Linked DNA regions of Homo sapiens. The protein of the gene in region 1 purifies or fractionates together with the protein of each later gene. This does not show direct contact. Each region holds a gene or a part of one and is shown in the gene's direction. Other genes may lie near its edges.

Region 1 (2,801 bases):
TCAAGCTTCTAGAGGCTGGCTGCATTCCCAGGCTCCAGTGGCTGGTCAAGCTTTTCTCACATGGCATCACTGTGACACTGGCCCTCCCACTTCCCTCTTTGACTTACAAAGCCCACCAGGAAGATCCAGGATAATCTCTCCATCTAAAGTTCCTTCATCATCCTGGAAGAGCCTTTTGCCATGCAAGACAACATAGCCACAGGTGGGGATTAGGACCAGAACATCTTTGGGGTGCTGTTATTCTGCCTACCACACCTTCCTGCCACTGACTCCCACAGGAGAGGCTACAAAATGATCTGGCGCACAGGGATGTTTTGTTTAGCTTGCGGACTCTAACACTTAAAAAAAAACCCAGATCAGAAGATCTGGCCATGCTGGGGCTCACATTCTCACCTAGCAACAACTGGCTGGAGCTGGGCACCAGCTCTGCCTTTAGAAGGGGTGTCCACTTCACCAGGTCACCACAGCCCACACTACGCCCTATCACTTCCCACAATGAGGCTGAGTGTTTGTTTCTACTGATCAATGCCCCTGCAGGTTGCATTTATTGTAATGAAAAAGAAAGACTGGGATTAATCTCTAATCAGGTGAGTAGACCATGAGACCAATGTGTGCTCACATTACCCTTTTTCTTTTTTTTCTTTTTCTTTTTCTTTTTTTTTTTAATGTGAGACAGGATCTCATTCTGTTGCCTAGGCTGGAGTGCAGTGGCGCAATCTCGGCTCACTGCAACCTCTGCCTCCTGGGCTCAAGCAATTCTCCCACCTCAGCCTCCCAAATAGCTGGGATCACTGGCACAAACCACCATGCCCAGCTAATTTTGTATTTTTTGTAGAGACAGGGTTTCACCATGTTGCCCAGGCTGGTCTCAACCTCCTGGGCTCAAGCAATCCTCCTGCCTCGGCCTCCCAAAGTGCTGGGATTACAGATGTGAGCCACCGCATCCAGCCCCACACCCTCATTTATACCAATTACCTGCCCAGTAACTGTGGACTTTTGCTTCCTCACCCCTGCTCTGATCTGGAAGGAGAGGGATTATGTTATAGCTTGTCAGCACAGTCCCAAGTTCAATATTTCTGCGGCAAAAACTTCCTTCAAAAAATAAATGTACTTCATTGTATTCAATGAATTCACCTTGGAAATGCACCGCCTCAACTTGTTCACATGGCATAAATGAAAGGAATTTTATAGTCTCCTAAATGGCGTGTACTGCAAGACCTCTTGAACACTTTCCAGAGGATAGGATATTTAAGTCATGCCCTTGGCGTTGCCTATGGCACCTTTCCCTTCTGAAAGTCTGGTTCCTGCCCAGTGACCCTTGGCCTTGTGAGCCGAGATGCTGACCCTGCATAAAGGGCCAAAGGAGGGCTGCGGCTTCCTTCCCTCACTGAAGAGCCCTTATTTGAATTCACTGTGTGGAGCCCTAGCCCTCCATTCTCGACATTCCCCAACCTCCCAGCCCCTTCCAAGCAGGACTAGGTGCCCTGCATTCCACCCAAGGTGGGATTGGCCTTCCTTAGGCTGGCTACTTGTCACCATCACCGACATCACTGTTGCCTGCAAGGACACCACGTGGCCATTTTCCTTCAACTGAGGGCTCAAAACTCCTGGACAAGTTGCTGGCTCCTGAGACCAGTATTTCCTGGAGCTGTGCCTCAGTGAAGGGGCCCAGCCTGAGGAACCCTGGCTCTTTTCTTTAAAGCCCAGGCCCCACTTACGTAAAACATTTCAGGGTCACTGGAAACAGTGAAGTGCCATTTGTTGAAGCCTACTGCATGCCAGCCCACTGCTCATCCACGTGGTCTGCCATGCCTACGAGGAAGGCCAGCGCATGCAGGACTGGTCTCTAATGCTGTGGTCATTGCACAGAAGGGAAAGGTCTCAAGGAAGAGTCAACTGGAACAAGCACAAGCCCACCGGACATGGCCTTGGTAAAGGTTAGCAGACTGGTGTGTGTGGATCTGCAGTGCTTCACTGGAAATAATTTATTCATTGCAGATACTTTTTAGGTGGCATTTTATTCATTTCCTGTGCTTTAAATAAACAAATGTACCAAAAAACAAGTATCAAGCTGTTTAAGTGCTTCGGCTACTTGTCCCCTGGTTCAGTAGAGGCCCCGGTTTCCCAGTTGTTGACTGTGACAGGCTCAGCATGGGCTCAGCAGATGCTGTCTTAATTTGTGGATGATACAGAAAGCCAGGCTTTGGGATACAAGTTCTTTCCTCTTCATTTGATGCCGTGCACTGTGTGAAGCAGATGTTTTTGTCCGGAAATAAAAATAATAGTCTTGGAGTCTCGCCACCACTGGTTTTCAAGTCTCCCTGTATGCAAGTGGAAGGAATGGAAGCTATGCCAATGGGTAGCTGAGAGGCCAGGGCTTGTTCTGTTCTGTTCTGTTCTTGTGGGGGCTACATGGGCCCCACCCTTTGTGACCTTTCCCAATACCTAACCCCCATAGAGGCCCAGGGCCACCCTAATCACTGACCACAGTTGATCTCTAAGCCCCGTGGAGGTCACCAGCCACCAGAACAAAAGTTAAGGGAGAGCAGTGAGAGAGGGAAGTTCCCATGGCCCCCACCATCTGCCATGCACTAGGAGGGGAGACCCAAGCACATTGGATTGAATCCACCGAGAAAACCAGATGTTGCTGTGTAATGAGCCACCCCAAAATTTAGTTAACAATTAGTAGTTTTGCTCACAAACCTGTAATTAGAGCAGGGTTCAGCAGGGACTGTATATCTCTCCTCCATGTGGCCACAGCTTGGGCAGCATAATTAGAATCCTCTTTCAAGTGGGCTCCA
Region 2 (3,500 bases), on another chromosome or scaffold:
CTGGGGCAGGATTTTGGCTTCCCTGGGCTCCTCTGAAGTTTCCGCTATGTGGGGGCGGCCCCCTCTGTCTTGAGGCCTCACGCTTTAGAGCCACAGCCTGGAAGCTCCCACCGGCCATCCCCTTCCACCCTGGGGACCCAAACCTGTTCCCCTAAGGACCAGACAGTCCTCCCTCAACCCATGGCTGAGCAGCCCCAAGTTCTGAGTGTTGTTTCAGATTCGGAGCATCTGGGGCCAGCTGGCACCCCTGATTCTGGCTTGACCTTGGCCTTGGCCTTCTGCTCCAAACCGTTATACCCACTTCCTCTGCCCCATGGGAAGCTCACAGGGGGCGGTTATGACTTAATCAAGAACATCAAACGGCCAGGAGCTGGCTCTGTGAGAGGTGGGAAGGGAGGGAAGAGCCTGGACTGTTTGGCCTGGGCCCCTCTGTGGGACAGGACCCGTTTAATCTCAGCAGGAACTGCCCTACCCACCCGCTTCCCCTCCACTAAGCCGGGGTCTGAGGAGCTGGGAGGGGAAGCCCAGAGGTAAACATGGAGTGAGTGGTGTGGGATGTGTTGCTCCCCTCGCCCCTGATGCTGCCCTAAGAAGAGGCAGACAACCACAGACCCGGGGCCTCTGCAACAGGCCCAGCTGGTGTCTCTCGGAGGCTGGCTGGTTCCTGACTCACCCCCGGGCTTCCCCTTCCACTGTGGTTTTCCTGTCAGCAGCTGATTCACTGTGCTGACATGGACAGGCAGCTGATGGAGGAAAGAGACCTGTGTTCTGGTCCTTGGAGTTGGCTGCTGCTCTGCTGTGTGTATGTTGTGTGACCTTAGATAAGTTCCTTCTCTCTGGGATTCCTTCCCTGACTTGCTGATGCCCCATTCTTTCCTTGGCTCTCGGGGAGTTCTGGGACCTGGGATCTATCCTTTGCAAAGTAGGGCATGTCTGTGAACACCCACCCATACTCAGGCATGCGCACACACACAAATACAACCCCAACACAGAGGAGCTGGGCAGCTCCCCTCAAAGAGCACTTGATCCTACCTCCCTATTTTTACCTTGTTTCCCCCACCTGAAGCACCTTTATCTTCTTTCTGCCTGTTAACAGATTAGGGAGATGATGGTACAGCATGGCGGTAAAGCACTGGACTTTAGAGTTGAGATCTCGGCCCTGCCAATTTCTGGCTACGTGACTCTTTCTGAGCCTCAGTTTTTGAACCTGCAAATGGGGATAATAATGGTCATGACTTCATAGGTCATGAGGAGAAGACAAAAAAGTGCACATGAAATGCTTAGTATTGTTATACCTAGCACATAGTAAATGCTCAATAAAGGAGAGCCATTGTTGTTTGCTGTATCTGGTTGGTCTTTCAAGGCTGGTGCCAGGCTCCTTCTCAGGCCCCCAGGGACACTCCCAGAACACCTTCCTTCTGCACAGGGCCTCTGTGCCTCTCCAATATGTGTGTGCCCCAAGACGCCAGTCATGTCTGGCTATGTGGGGCTCTCTGGCTCTTCCTGGGGGTGGCTGGGTCTCCTCACTGTGACGCTCAGCTTCCTGAGGGGCAGTAGGTCTGAACATCTCTGGCTGCCTTTCCCAAGCCCCTCATTGCCCTTCACCTTCTCCTCTGTGCTTGGCTGCCTTTCCCAAGCCCCTCATTGCCCTTCACCTTCTCCTCTGTGCTTGTCTACACTGTGTACCCTCCTCTTTGATCCTGCCACTTTGTGGTGTATGATGTGTTTCCATGAGCTCTCCTGGGCAGGCACTGCCCTGTCCTGTCTGTATCTCTGATTCCTGGCATACAGCAGGCACTTGGGGATCGATGACTGAATGAATAGGTTAGTGGTTCTCTTGGGTGAGGCCGGGGGTATCAGCAGTACCTAGCTTGGTACCACATACCAGGTGACTCCTTGGCAAAGTGGAGCCGGGAAGCAGGACCTGGATGCCACTGCCTGGTGCTTCAGGCCTGTGGGCCGCACTTCTGCAACCTGGATCCAGGGAGATGGGAATGCACCGTCTGTCCTGGAATTGCTTTCAGCAGAGCTTCTGCTTCTCTTCCGATGCCTGGCCTTTATTACCCTCCTGAGAGGGGAACAGCATGACTTCCTTCAGTCCTAACCCAGGAAGGGGCCACTCTGGCCTTTAGTGAACTCTGACTCAGCCAGAAAGAGCATCTTGGAGTCAACAATTGTTTGTGGAAGGTGCTGCTATCCTGTGGGGACTCAAGCTGGGGCCTGGAGAAATGGGACGGTGGCCTCCAGGAAGCCCATCCTGGACATCATCCATGCAGACCCCCAGGTGGGCAGCTCTGGGAAGCCCCACTCTCCCCTCTGACCTCCTACCCTGCAGCAGAAGCTTTTGCCTCTTCTCCGCCGCCCCACCCCGCAACTTGACTTTCCCTGCTGTGTGGAAGGGTGATCTGGTGTGGGAGTTGTTCAGAGTTCTGGGCCTTGGCTCTCAGTGTCAATGTGGAGAAGTGAACAATGCCCTGGTAGTTGGGCATTAGGAAGCCCGGGTTCAAATCCTGGCTCTGCCATGGAGCTACAGCATGACCTTGGCCAGAGAGGTGACTTCTAGGCAGGTTTTCTTCCTTTTAGGCAGCAAGTGTTCCAGAAGCCTTCCTGAGTCCCAGCTGGGCTTGGGCCTGGGGGAGTGGGGAAGAAAGCCTGGGCAAGATCACAGACTCTGGAATCAAATTGCCTAAGGATGATTCCCGCCTCTGCTACTTACCAGCTAGGCGTGACTTTGTGTCTTACCGCTCTGTGCATCAGTTTCAGCATCTATAAAATGGAGACAATAATAGTACTCATCTCATAGGGTTGTTTGAGAATGATATATGAGCTAATGCATATGAAGCATTTAAGACAGCGCCTGGCACATAGTTAGTGCTATATATGTTCCTGCTGCTTTTGGTAGTGTTTTATTTTTATTTTTATTTTTTTTTGAGACAGAGTCTCACTGTATTGCTGAGGCTGGAGTGCAGTGGTGCAATCTTGGCTCACTGCAACCTCCACCTCCCGGGTTCAAGTGATTCTCGTGTCTCAGCCTCCTGAGTAGCTGGAATTTCAGGCATGCACCACCACACCAGGCTAATTTTTGTATTTTTAGTAGAGATAGGATTTCACCATATTGATCAGGCTGCTCTCAAACTCCTGGCCTCAAGTGATCCTCCAGCCTTGGCCTCCCAAAGGGATTACAGGCATGATCTACTGTGCTCGGTGTTTTTGGTAGTGCTGTTAATAGGAAGCAGGATGTAAGTCTTTGAAGAGCTTGAGTCTGGAGATCAGGGGACCTGGGCTCCGTTCCCAGCTCATCTTTTACTTGCTGTGTTATCTTGGGTAAGTTATAGCCCTTCTTGGGCTACAAAACTATATTATCTTGCATTTGCTGCACTTGGCTTTTGTAAGTGAGGCACATGTGATGCCACAGTGGACGGCTGCAGGGTTTTATTCAGGGGAAGGACTCCTGGGGGCCTGGCTTATTCTCCTGCAGCCTAGGAAGGAAGGAAGGCTGT

The links. Proteins that work in one complex are often made in the same cells at the same time.
Region 2: the proteins of CDCP1 (region 1) and CD82 purify together in Homo sapiens (affinity purification with western blotting; one study listed by BioGRID). This does not show direct contact.

Annotation. Positions count from the first base shown.
Region 1 is NC_000003.12:45,081,777-45,084,577, reverse strand, and holds the end of CDCP1 (CUB domain-containing protein 1 isoform 1 precursor), read left to right. Parts: 3' UTR 1-2,301; downstream 2,302-2,801. UniProt on the Homo sapiens protein: May be involved in cell adhesion and cell matrix association. May play a role in the regulation of anchorage versus migration or proliferation versus differentiation via its phosphorylation.
Region 2 is NC_000011.10:44,568,663-44,572,162, forward strand, and holds part of CD82 (CD82 antigen), read left to right. Parts: intron 1-3,500. UniProt on the Homo sapiens protein: Structural component of specialized membrane microdomains known as tetraspanin-enriched microdomains (TERMs), which act as platforms for receptor clustering and signaling.